Linked DNA regions of Homo sapiens. Changing the gene in region 1 together with any one later gene gives a genetic interaction. Each region holds a gene or a part of one and is shown in the gene's direction. Other genes may lie near its edges.

Region 1 (2,298 bases):
AACAGAACCCTTGTGCCCATACTTTTGCCCCCCGAGTTTGGCCTGCCCTGGCGCCACAGGCAGTACTGGAAGCTGATAAGTCAGGGCACAAATTAAAGGTCTAGGAGGCAAGACCAACTGATAAACAGGGGGCGTAATGCTTCCTGGGGATAATCCCATCTCAAGGAAAAGCTTTTGGCTATTTCTGTGTTAGCAGATGCGAGCAAGTTGTGGAGGAAAATGATTAACTTAAAGGCCACACCCCCCAACCCCTTCAGCTGTACGGGCATCTGGATGGCCAGACCCCTGATCAGCTCCAGGCCTTGCCTAGAGTCGCACACAGGAAGTGACCACAACACTAAGGCATCCGGAGGCTGCTGGCCCAGACCACGGACCGCCCCCTGCTCCGCCCCTTGAATCTGCAGCCCCGAACTGGAGGGAATTTCCTTTTATGGCCCCAGGCTGTCAGGCAGGCCCAGCTCCAAACCAATTGTTTTGTTTTGTTTGTATACTTTACTTTATAAAATACATATTTCTTGGAAAAGAAAAAAATCAGGTATAGTTTTAATCCCAAAACAGCCATTCTCATTTTCTTCTGTTTTCTATGCACAGGATTGCTAAGTAGGGGAATCCTGCTTTGCATGGTGGTTTGTTATCTACCTCATCAGTAGTCAAAAGCATTTCTCCTTTTCAACATAAACCCTTCCAAAACATCATTTAAATTCCATTCCATTTTTAGATGTTAGTTTCAGTACCAGAGCCAAATAGTAAGTTTGTTCCCTCTTCTATAAGTTGTGGCCTGCCTTCTCCAAGACACCCTTCTCCCCCACTAACATGCACTGAACAGCTGCTGTCAATCCATTCCCTCAAGAAACTTAAAGGTCTAACAGACAAGACAGTCCATTAACAGATTTTTACAATCCAGTGCAACAAGTGCTGAAGTAGGGGGACATATAAGATGTGGTGGAAAACAGAAAGGACCAATAGATGTTGCAGAAGGGGTGCAAGAGAAACCAGGGGAAGAGCACTACCACCTAAGGAAATGAGATGTGGGATATGGTGAAGATAACACATTTTTTTATAGAGGTTGTTGAGATATCTAGGTGGTTGGTTTGGTTTGAAGCTCAGGGGAAGGTCTGAAATGGACAGCTTTGGGAGTTGCTGGCATGAATGAGAATCAAAGTCCTAGAGAGGTAAGCCTTCCCAGAGAGTATGTAATTATCAGTTTTTCAGGAATCAAAACCTTTGCCCCATCCCACCTCCAGCTCAATGACCATTGCCCCTTCCTCAAAGGGACGATCATGGCTTCTCCCCCTTGCACTGGGCCTGCCGAGAGGGCCGCTCTGCTGTGGTTGAGATGTTGATCATGCGGGGGGCACGGATCAATGTAATGAACCGTGGGGATGACACCCCCCTGCATCTGGCAGCCAGTCATGGACACCGTGATATTGTACAGAAGGTACGTACAAACTCCTTCGTCATCCACATCACATACATGCCATGAGGGTCAGTCACAGGCACTGTAACATACAGTAGAAAGCATGTGTGCTCTTCCCCCTTTTCCCATGCCCTGACACCAGTATCTCATTTGGAACTGACTGTACTTTCTGCCTCTTCTTTTTGTCTGGCCATGGGGTCCAGCTATTGCAGTACAAGGCAGACATCAATGCAGTGAATGAACACGGGAATGTGCCCCTGCACTATGCCTGTTTTTGGGGCCAAGATCAAGTGGCAGAGGTGAGTACTCAGCCCTTAATTCCTGAGATGGGTAGGAAGTAAAGTCTGAGCCTTGGTGGGAGATTTTGGAACCCTCAACCCATTCTGTCAGTACTACTGTGTGACACTTACAGGATTAAGTTCTACATTTGTGCATTCATGGTTGGTTCAGTGACTGCCAGCGAGGTAGCAGTGGCTCTCATCATAATGGCCTTTTCATTCCAGGACCTGGTGGCAAATGGGGCCCTTGTCAGCATCTGTAACAAGTATGGAGAGATGCCTGTGGACAAAGCCAAGGCACCCCTGAGAGAGCTTCTCCGAGGTCCATCTCCCCATCCCCTAGCTTGTGTCCTCTCGTCCCTTCCCACCTGTCTTCTCCCTCTGTACCACAGCTTAGGTTGTTTTTCTTCCCTAGAGCGGGCAGAGAAGATGGGCCAGAATCTCAACCGTATTCCATACAAGGACACATTCTGGAAGGGGACCACCCGCACTCGGCCCCGTGAGTCACCACTGTGGGAAGAAGGGTTGTAAAAGGAAATAATCCTGGCCTCTTGGGGCTGGGTTAGGGTGAAGCTGGGTACCTGACCTGCCCACACTCTTAGG
Region 2 (3,500 bases), on another chromosome or scaffold:
AGCGATTGTGAGACCAAAAGTTTGATAACTGCTAGCCTAACAAACTAGCCAAACTTAGTGTTGAGAATTAGTGTTTAAAATGTGTTAAAAACCTATCATCAGCCTTTATTGAAATATAAATTGTGTTGAACCTGATCTTTTCTCGCCCTTTTCCTGACTTTTTACATTGCTTGTCAACAATATTCTACCTCTTTATTTTATTCTTGGAACAGGTGCTACTGAATGAACTATTTCAACCCTTTCCTCAATTCCCTTCTCTTTTTAAAAAAATTTTACCTGAGACTGGGAGAATGTTAGAAGTGTGTAATCAGGCAGCTAAATGCTCTAGTAAGAATAATGATATCTTGAGGCAAGCTGCAGTCTAATATAATATAATGAATGCATATTAGAAATCGACTTTATTATTTCCTATCTCTAATGAATTGATACATAATAGGCCATATGTGATGTGTCTAGTGCAGCGTATCTCTATGGTCCACATGTACTTTCTATGACAAGAATAAACAAAACTGGGAGAAATGACCGGATTTTAAATTATCATTTCACAAAGTCATGTTTCATAAAATATATTGAACTGAAGTCTTTCCTTGAAGTTGTGATGCCAGTTTCCTGTTGGAGCAGAAGTTGGTCTCAGTGACTATGTGGCCTGAGGCAGGGCCTGAGACTGGGAGGTCCAGCAGCTCAGGAAGGGGAAATGTGTGAGACTAATGGGAGCCAAGCAGGCACTTTGGTGAGAGACAGAGATGCTGACTCATGCGCCAGTGAGATGTGTGCATGTCTGAGATCACATGTGTCATTTGCTTACCTGTGAAATGTGTGTGGGCATGTGACTGTGTGTTTGTCCCTGTGACACATCTATTACTCAGTAAGCAGGACAGTGCTGTTTGTGGTAGGTGTTCCACACATTAAATGGATGAGCACACAGCTTTTCACAGGTGGAATCACTGTCTCAAAGTATTTCCCTCAGTTGTCATAGGGCCTGAAATCTCTCTAATTCACTGGGCGGAGACACTGTGTTCAAGTGGCCGAAATGACAATGTTAGTATTTTACTGATGACATTAACAGTGATTAACATCTCAGAGAGGAGCTGTTAGTGGGTGTTGTCCTTGATCATAAGCAGATACCCAGAAAGCATGGGACAGAGGAGCCGTGTGAGCTGTGGTGGCCTGGCAGGAACCTGGATGCTGGAAGGGAGCTCTGGAAGATGTTGGGCTGGGCTTTGGGGATGGGGTTGACTATTATTTGCCAGTTTCCACCTTCCCAGAACCAGTCCTATCTACCTTTCAGGAGGAGTGCCACTCCCTCTTCCCAGATGTATGCAACACAACACACACACACACACACACACACACACGCACACACACACGCAGAGAGAGAGAGGTTAGTAGCCCTTTCAAAGCCTTCAGACTCACCTGTGTATATTTTATATCATGTATATTTTACCAAGTTTCCCTGTCCTGCATCTTCTCTTCCCATAATGCCTATCTTGAATCCTGTTCACTCTTCCCCATATGCTGCTGGTACAGACTGTATTGGTGATCACGTACCGAGAACCCCCAAATCCTGAGTATCAGGAATTCCAGAATCGTCTGCTGATAAGAGCCCGGGAAGACTTTGGTGTGGAGCTGGGCCCTTCCCTGGTAAGTAGATCTCTCCCTTCCTGAGAGTCAGGTCAAGCTTTGGGGAAGGGCTTCTCTCCCAAACTCAGCATCAAGTCTTGGCTGTGGAGCAAGCCCAACTTTGGGGGGTCTCCGCTTCTGTCCAGGATTTTTCCTTCTGCCCTATGGAGTAGTTAGGAAGGGATGGCACTTTAGGAATAAGAGGGAAGAAAGCAAACCAGAAGAGAGAATAGGTAGAAGGGAGACCCCAGAGAGAGGGGAAGGGGCCTTGCAGGACATTTGGAGAGTACTGCTGAAGTTGCCACCCCCAGATGAACCTCATCGCTGGCTGCTTCTATGATGGGATCCTGCTATATGCTGAAGTCCTGAATGAGACAATACAGGAAGGAGGCACCCGGGAGGATGGACTTCGAATTGTGGAAAAGATGCAGGGACGAAGATATCACGGTAATGAAGAGGGGTCAATGGGGGTCTGAGGGCTGATGTCAGGAATAGAGTGGGCTGAAGAAGAAACAGATGTCAGGATCACCACAGCTTTAGTGGGGGTTAGTGAATATGGCAGAGTTGCCCACACCTCAAGATCGGGGAAGGGTAGACTCTGAGGGAGCCGTAGGCATGAGTGAGTGGGAGAGGAGCCCAGGGTAGACCTCAAAGAAAGGACACTCTTTTCTGTCTTAGGTGTAACTGGGCTGGTTGTCATGGACAAGAACAATGACCGAGAGACTGACTTTGTCCTCTGGGCCATGGGAGACCTGGATTCTGGGGACTTTCAGGTGATGGAGGAGGAGGCAGGGAAGAGAGTGTGGCCCTGCAAAATCCAGCTTTCAAGGGTTCAGTCGGGGCAGAACCAAAACTACTAGATGAGGGATTTGTTTTCTCTGCTGGCACTGCATCCTGGCTGGGTGGTAGGCTGGGGAGAAAAGCAGCGAAACAGCTGGGGTCTGGGGAGGAGGCTGGTGGGAGCAGGCCTGTGGGCCCAGCTTTTTGCTTCCTTACAGCCTGCAGCCCACTACTCGGGAGCTGAGAAGCAGATTTGGTGGACGGGACGGCCTATTCCCTGGGTGAAGGGGGCTCCTCCCTCGGACAATCCCCCCTGTGCCTTTGACTTGGACGACCCATCCTGTGATAAAAGTGGGTGTGTGCAGGGACTGGGAGCAGCTTTCCTCCCTTTGCTTTCCATTCATGGCCTCCACCCTCACTGACCCTCCACTCTTAACTGTGCTTCTGCCTTTACGTCTGCATCCCTCCCTCCTCATTTCTTCCTACTCCCAAGGAGTCTGTCTATGCACCTATGCACCCCGTTCTCCATTCTGCCAAGTCCGCACACAGTCTTCCTCAGGGTCTCTATTTCCCCTTCAGCTCCACTTTCAACCCTGGCAATTGTGGCTCTGGGCACAGGAATCACCTTCATCATGTTTGGTGTTTCCAGCTTCCTAATTTTCCGGTGAGTTCTGGGTTTCTTGCTGACCTACTCCCTGCCCCCATTGCCACACAACCTCTGGCTGAAGCCAGGTGGTCCCTATAATGTGGGATAGGGTAGTAGGTTTCTTAATTTGCTGGTTGTCTCTTAGATCCAACAGCGTCTTCCTCTCTAGCCTTTCTCTTTAGTTGTCGCTTAGCCTAGGTGTTTGTTCCACTTTTGGTCCTAGACTGGATATACTAACTAGTGTTTTTCAGTGGGGTTAAGATCAAAGGTGAATTTTCCATTGGTCTTCTTTTAGGAAAGAACTTTCACCCCCAGTCTCTGTGTTTGTTAGTGAGCATAGGGCATGTGCCAGATATGCCGAGAATGCAGCCTTATCTTCCAGCCCTGTCTCTCAGGTGTAACAGTTGCAGCTTCAGGAGCTGCAGGGAAGCCCCTGCAACCCTGCTGTTGGCTT
Region 3 (2,252 bases), on another chromosome or scaffold:
GACAGACTCCCACACTCACCCCTGCACCCATGCCTGCACCCGTAACGCTCTGCTGGTCTCTGCCCCACAGTGGCCATCAACCTCATCGTGCAGCACATCCAGGACATCCTGAATGGAGGGCCCTCCAAACGGCAGACCAATGGCTGTCTCAACGGCTACACCCCTTCACGCAAGAGGCAGGCATCGGAGTCCAGCAGCAGGCCGCATTGACCCGTCTCCATCGGACCCCAGCCCCTATCTCCAAGAGACAGAGGAGGGGTCAGGAGGCACTGCTCATCTGTACATACTGTTTCCTATGACATTACTGTATTTAAGAAAACACCATGGAGATGAAATGCCTTTGATTTTTTTTTTCTTTTTGTACTTTGGAACGACAAAATGAAACAGAACTTGACCCTGAGCTTAAATAACAAAACTGTGCCAACTACTACTGGTGATGCCTAATTATGAATCCAACGTGTAACCAGTTATAAATACATATATATATAAAAAAGGATCTATTTTTGTGTAAATGTACAAATACTGTAAAGCTGTTTGCCATAAGTATTTTGCAGGAGGGTCTGTACTTGAGTGTTTTAGGACTGGAGCTGGAATTTCACCAAGGGGAAATTGCCTGTTGTGTCCCAGGGTGGGGAGGCTCGGGCATCTGTGAGAGACAGGGAGGGTGGCTAAGGTCCAGTTGCTTTTGAGTGCCCCGTGGAACTTGATGGGAATGGGGTTGGAAAACCTTGATTGCCTCCTCTGTCACATGCCACTCTTGGAGCTGGAGCTTAGTGATATGTCAATGAGAGATACTCTTGTCTTTTTTTTTTTTCTTTTCTTTTTTTTTTTTGAGTTGAAATTAGGTAAAATCTCAACTCAAAAATCAAACTCAGGGAAGAGGCCCACTGAGGAGAACAAGTCTTCTGCATTTTCTTCCTGCCCTGCTCCCACCTTCTCGCCTCTGGCTGCTTGGATAGCTTGGTGACTCCTTCCTCACCCTCCTGCTTCTCTGTCTCTCCAAGAAGCCAGAGCTGCCTCTTTCCTTCCCTGGAAGAGATTTTATGGGATCGCTTCCTGATAGAAGATGGGAAGGAGAGGGCAGAACTTTGCCTGCTGTCATATCTGAAGAATCACTGGTTCTTTCTGCATCCCAGGGGCGTAACTGATCTGACTCCTTGGGCTTTTTCCTGTATTGTGGAATATAGAGTGGACCATTGCAGGCTGGGTGTGGGTGAGGGCTTCGGTAACTGATGCCGGCAGCAGCGCCTCATGGAGTGGCAGGGGAGCTCTGTCTGTGGAGGGGTAGTAGTTTCCGCTTCCTGGAGGTTTGCAGTGAGGTGAGGAGAGTAACTTTGGTCAGGGATTCTCACTAGCAGCGTCATGGCCAGGATGCTTTACTTATTTGCAATACCACCTAGTGGATATGGCAACTGCAGAGCATAAAAGGGGCTCGGAAAAGCAGTTTTTACAAAGTATTTAAAAGGAGAGTATTTAAATCATAGGTACCTAAGTTGGAGCCTGAGGTTGAAATATTTGGGGTGGAGATTTCTAGCTTTCCTGAGAGCTGCTGCTTGGTGGTAGTGTTTTCTCTGGAAGTACAGATTCCTGACATTCTGGGTGGAGGGGAGCCCAAGTGAGCCTGAAGGAGTTCTGATTATAGAGTCCCGAGCCTCAGTTTCTGACTGCAGAAGAGCCAGAGATGTTCATTTCATTGTTGACCACCCTAGTGCTTGGTGGACTGTGCCCTTAGCTATCCCACTGTGGCTGCCATTGCCAGAAACATTTTGGAGAACCTTTTCTTCCCATTGCTCTCAGAGCCTGTTCGAGCCATTCAGGTAAATTGGTCTCCATTATTACCTGGTCACACCAGATTTTCCCCCAGACTCAGCACCATCCAGTCTGATTCCCCGTTTCTGGGCTCAGTTTGACTCTAAATCTGTTTTGCTATTTTAAAAAGTCAAACCTGGTCCCCAGCAGAGCTTGCCACCCGGAGACTTTCAGGAGACCGTGCAGGCTCTGAAGGGAGCTCCCAGTCACAGCAGCCGCCTACTTGGAGCAAGGGAAGGCTCCCAAGATGCCTCCTTTGAAAGCCGGTGCTCACCAAGATCAGTTCAGGATCAATCATTATCCTTGTAGTCATGCCTTGATCAGTTCTGAGATGAAGCAGGGAATGCAGGCCTGGGTTAGTATCCTGAGGACACAGGGCCCCTGGCCTTGATGGCACTGGGCTGTGCTCAGGTGAAGCCCACCCGTGTCTGGGAGAGCCTTGG
Region 4 (4,069 bases), on another chromosome or scaffold:
AGAGTTTTCAGAATTGCCCTTGGAATGCAGTTCCCCACTCTTTGGGCACACCCCTGAGCAGGCCCCAAGCTAAATCCCTGGCCATAACTCCCCACACTACTCCCACCCTAACCCCAAGCAAGCTGCTTACATTTCAGTCTTTCAGTTTCAAGGTTCCATGTAGGGTGGGCAGCTGTGGACAGGTATCAAGGCAGCAGTTGGGGCCGGCCAGCAGGTTTAGGATGCAGGATAGCAAGAGAAGAGTGCCTGACTGGGAACAAGGCCACGCCTCTGAGACAAGGGCTTCTGGGCTGAAGTAGTGCCTGCTGGGGCCAACAGCACAACCTACCTGGACAGCTGTGGCAGGTCCTTAAGGGAGGGGCTGGGCCCACTGCTGGCCACCGCCACCCTAGTCCAATTCTCCATTGCTAGGAGCTGTTGCGTATTACCTAGAAAAGGAGCTTGTAAAATTGACTCTCTGGTCACCACCAAACTTGTCTTTTTTTTTTTTGAGACAGAGTTTTGCTCTTGTTGCCCAGGCTGGAGTGCAATGGTGTGATCTCAGCTCACCGAAACCTCCGCCTCCCAGGTTCAAGTGATTCTCCTGCCTCAGCCTCCCGAGTAGCTGGGATTACAGGCATGAGCCACCATGCCCAGCTAATTTTGTATTTTTTAGTAGAGATGGGGTTTCTCCATGTTGGTCAGGCTGGTCTCCAACTCCCGACCTCAGGTGATCTGCACACCTCGGCCTCCCAAAGTGCTGGGATTACAGGCGTGAGCCACTGCGCCCGGCCCAAACTTGTCTGTCTTTATCTCTACTTACAGTGAGTGTCAGGTCACCCTCTTGGAGACCGGTGATCAGAGGCTGATGACCTCTCACAGCTGCTGGCCCTGGGGACCTAGGGGATCCCTTTGGGAATCCCAGGTCAACCGGGTGCCAGCTCCATTGCTCTGGCTGTGTGGGTGGTGGTGGGTGGTGAGGCACATAGAAAGTCACCAGCGCCAGGGAAGGGCAGCTCAGAAATCCTGGTCATGCCAAGTGCCACTCAGGGCTATTCTCACTCTAGTGAGTGCTCATTGGTTCTTCCCGAAGTCCAGAGGGAAGGACACCATCGGGGGCGCTGTATCCCACCCGGCACCATTAGCCCCTGCCACCCACCACCCAGCAGCTGGATTCCCACGGGAGTTGCGGGTGGGGGCGGAACCGGCTGAGGTCTGGGGGCGGGGCGTCCGGGCGCGGGGCGGGGCTGGCGGGAATGTGCGCACCCCCGCGCGGGGCCCCGCCCGAGCATCCCGCGCCGACGGGGCTGTGCCGGAGCAGCTGTGCAGAGCTGCAGGCGCGCGTCATGGCTGCTTTGAGACAGCCCCAGGTCGCGGAGCTGCTGGCCGAGGCCCGGCGAGCCTTCCGGGAGGAGTTCGGGGCCGAGCCCGAGCTGGCCGTGTCAGCGCCGGGCCGCGTCAACCTCATCGGGGAACACACGGACTACAACCAGGGCCTGGTGCTGCCTATGGTGAGGGGCTGCACGGGGAGCCCCTAGCCCGCCGCCGCCTGTCCCGGCCGCCGAGGAGGGCGGGCCTCGGGGACGCTGGGGGCGAGTTCTTCCCGCGGGAGATGTGGGGCGGGCAGCTGCGCCTGGAGCACCGGTGCACGGAAGAGTCCCCGGGACAGGCTGTTCCCCACGTTGGAAGGGAGGAAGCGAGGAAGTGGCCGGGAGAGGGTGCGCGGCCGCCTCTTGGCTCAAGCCCGCCCTCTGGGGGCTGGGGCTCCTCGCCTTCAACCTGGGAGCATGTTCCCCTTAAACTGTGAGGCCCTGTGTGCCACGCAGAAGGGGACACTCCGCGCCTCCGGCCACCGTGGGGCCCCAACCGCAGACCTGGGCGAACGTAGCCTTCTGGCCCAGCCCGTTCAATTTACAGAGGAGGAAACTGAGGCCTAGAGAGGCCCAGTGAACTGCTGGAGGTCACACAGCAGGTTCTTGGCGGGGCTGCGACTTGGGAGTGAGGACTCCCAGCTTTCAGCGGGGGGCGCTTTCCGCCCCATCTGCAGCTTGGGGAGTGCACAGGTACAGGATGTCCAGAGCCACCCCAAAATGTAAAGGCTTTGGAGCTCCAGTGATCTGTTTTCCCTTTGGGCTAGCTCTCCCCCTTGCCCCACAGCTCAGGGCAGAGTCCAGGTCTGTGCTCCAGCTGCAGCCGCCCCGCCCCTGAAGACCTAAGGGGGCAGGGCTCAAGCCCCCAAGGTCAGCTGGCCCTCAGGATCTTCCCTGCGACGCTGAACCTGGAGGTTCAGAACCTGATGACTGTGGAGGCATCAGAACCTCGGCTGGAGGCAGTGTCATTGGAGAGGCTTACTCCAGCTGGCGGAAGCCTCACGTACTGCTTGTCTCTCCTGCCAGGCTCTGGAGCTCATGACGGTGCTGGTGGGCAGCCCCCGCAAGGATGGGCTGGTGTCTCTCCTCACCACCTCTGAGGGTGCCGATGAGCCCCAGCGGCTGCAGTTTCCACTGCCCACAGCCCAGCGCTCGCTGGAGCCTGGGACTCCTCGGTGGGCCAACTATGTCAAGGGAGTGATTCAGTACTACCCAGGTATGGGGCCCAGGCCTGAGCCAAGTCCTCACTGATACTAGGAGTGCCACCTCACAGCCACAGAGCCCATTCATTTGTCTGATACACTGTGGGGAAGGCTTGTAGAGTGGAGCATCCCATTGTACAGATGAGGAAACTGATGCCCCCAGAAGGTCGGGAACTTGCCCTGGGTTTCCCGTGACCTGATTGGAGGAGCCAGGATTTGAACCCCAGCCTTTTTTCCCTCCAGAGCCCTAAACCAGGAGGACAATTAGAAGTGTCCCAGCAACCTCAGAGGGTGGGAAAATGGAGGGCAGTGGGTCCCTTGGCCCAGCAGGTTGGTGGCTTCTGACAATTGAGACACACACCCTAGAAACAGCTGCTAGGCCGTTGCTGCCCTTCCCGCCAGGACACCTGCCCTTCCTGTGCCATCCTCCCAGGCAGCCCCTCTTACCATCACCTGTTCTTTCCCCTGCAGCTGCCCCCCTCCCTGGCTTCAGTGCAGTGGTGGTCAGCTCAGTGCCCCTGGGGGGTGGCCTGTCCAGCTCAGCATCCTTGGAAGTGGCCACGTACACCTTCCTCCAGCAGCTCTGTCCAGGTACCAGCTAGGCCCCAGCCCTGACCCAGCCCTCCTTCCCTGAGGTCTCCAGGTGGTCCCAGCTTCTACTATGCCTTATGGAGGGGGTGGCAGGGACTCTCCCTGGAGTGTCATTGAAGCCACTGCTGCTTCCACCAGCCCTAGCCTCCCCACCTCACCCTGTACTGCAGACTCGGGCACAATAGCTGCCCGCGCCCAGGTGTGTCAGCAGGCCGAGCACAGCTTCGCAGGGATGCCCTGTGGCATCATGGACCAGTTCATCTCACTTATGGGACAGAAAGGCCACGCGCTGCTCATTGACTGCAGGTTGGGCTCGCTCCCCTCGTCCCCTCCCGCCCTGCACTCAGCAGCTCCTGGGTGGGAGTGTGCCCACTGCCTGGCGCAGCAAGCACACGCTTGGCCTCGTCATCTCCCCCATTGTAACTCCACCCCAGGTCCTTGGAGACCAGCCTGGTGCCACTCTCGGACCCCAAGCTGGCCGTGCTCATCACCAACTCTAATGTCCGCCACTCCCTGGCCTCCAGCGAGTACCCTGTGCGGCGGCGCCAATGTGAAGAAGTGGCCCGGGCGCTGGGCAAGGAAAGCCTCCGGGAGGTACAACTGGAAGAGCTAGAGGGTGAGAACTGCCAGGGTGCTCTATCCTGGAGGCGGCTGTGCTCCCTGCTGGCGCCTCAGTGTGGCCTTGACCCTGCCTGGGACCCCGATCTCCAGGGCCTTCTGCCATGCTCTCCCCAGTCCCTTCAAACACTGCGCACCCAGGGTTCCAATCTCAGCAGGGCTGCTTGAAATCCTAAAATGGTCTTATCTAATCAGAAAAATCATGTTTCCATTGTGGAAAATGTAGAAAAGTACAAAGTAGAAAATAATAAGCTATAAGGCCACTACCCAGAGATAGCCACTGCTGACATTTTCACGTTTCCTTTCAGT

The links. Genes that interact genetically often act in the same process or in processes that back each other up.
Region 2: changes in ILK (region 1) and NPR2 together harm fitness less than expected from each alone (positive genetic interaction), as found in Homo sapiens cells (one large-scale study listed by BioGRID).
Region 3: changes in ILK (region 1) and UCK2 together harm fitness less than expected from each alone (positive genetic interaction), as found in Homo sapiens cells (one large-scale study listed by BioGRID).
Region 4: changes in ILK (region 1) and GALK1 together harm fitness less than expected from each alone (positive genetic interaction), as found in Homo sapiens cells (one large-scale study listed by BioGRID).

What each region holds. Positions count from the first base shown.
Region 1 is NC_000011.10:6,606,774-6,609,071, forward strand, and holds part of ILK (scaffold protein ILK), read left to right. Parts: exon of another isoform or gene 1-1,272; coding exon 1,273-1,438; exon of another isoform or gene 1,439-1,620; coding exon 1,621-1,716; exon of another isoform or gene 1,717-1,920; coding exon 1,921-2,017; exon of another isoform or gene 2,018-2,110; coding exon 2,111-2,194; exon of another isoform or gene 2,195-2,297; coding exon 2,298-2,298. UniProt on the Homo sapiens protein: Scaffold protein which mediates protein-protein interactions during a range of cellular events including focal adhesion assembly, cell adhesion and cell migration.
Region 2 is NC_000009.12:35,798,091-35,801,590, forward strand, and holds part of NPR2 (atrial natriuretic peptide receptor 2 isoform 1 precursor), read left to right. Parts: intron 1-1,527; coding exon 1,528-1,641; intron 1,642-1,931; coding exon 1,932-2,067; intron 2,068-2,298; coding exon 2,299-2,393; intron 2,394-2,618; coding exon 2,619-2,751; exon of another isoform or gene 2,752-2,755; intron 2,756-2,979; coding exon 2,980-3,064; intron 3,065-3,500. UniProt on the Homo sapiens protein: Receptor for the C-type natriuretic peptide NPPC/CNP hormone. Has guanylate cyclase activity upon binding of its ligand. May play a role in the regulation of skeletal growth.
Region 3 is NC_000001.11:165,907,614-165,909,865, forward strand, and holds part of UCK2 (uridine-cytidine kinase 2), read left to right. Parts: intron 1-70; coding exon 71-210; 3' UTR 211-2,252. UniProt on the Homo sapiens protein: Phosphorylates uridine and cytidine to uridine monophosphate and cytidine monophosphate. Does not phosphorylate deoxyribonucleosides or purine ribonucleosides. Can use ATP or GTP as a phosphate donor.
Region 4 is NC_000017.11:75,762,393-75,766,461, reverse strand, and holds the start of GALK1 (galactokinase), read left to right. Parts: upstream 1-1,269; 5' UTR 1,270-1,325; coding exon 1,326-1,490; intron 1,491-2,375; coding exon 2,376-2,565; intron 2,566-3,022; coding exon 3,023-3,142; intron 3,143-3,312; coding exon 3,313-3,448; intron 3,449-3,576; coding exon 3,577-3,758; intron 3,759-4,069. UniProt on the Homo sapiens protein: Catalyzes the transfer of a phosphate from ATP to alpha-D-galactose and participates in the first committed step in the catabolism of galactose.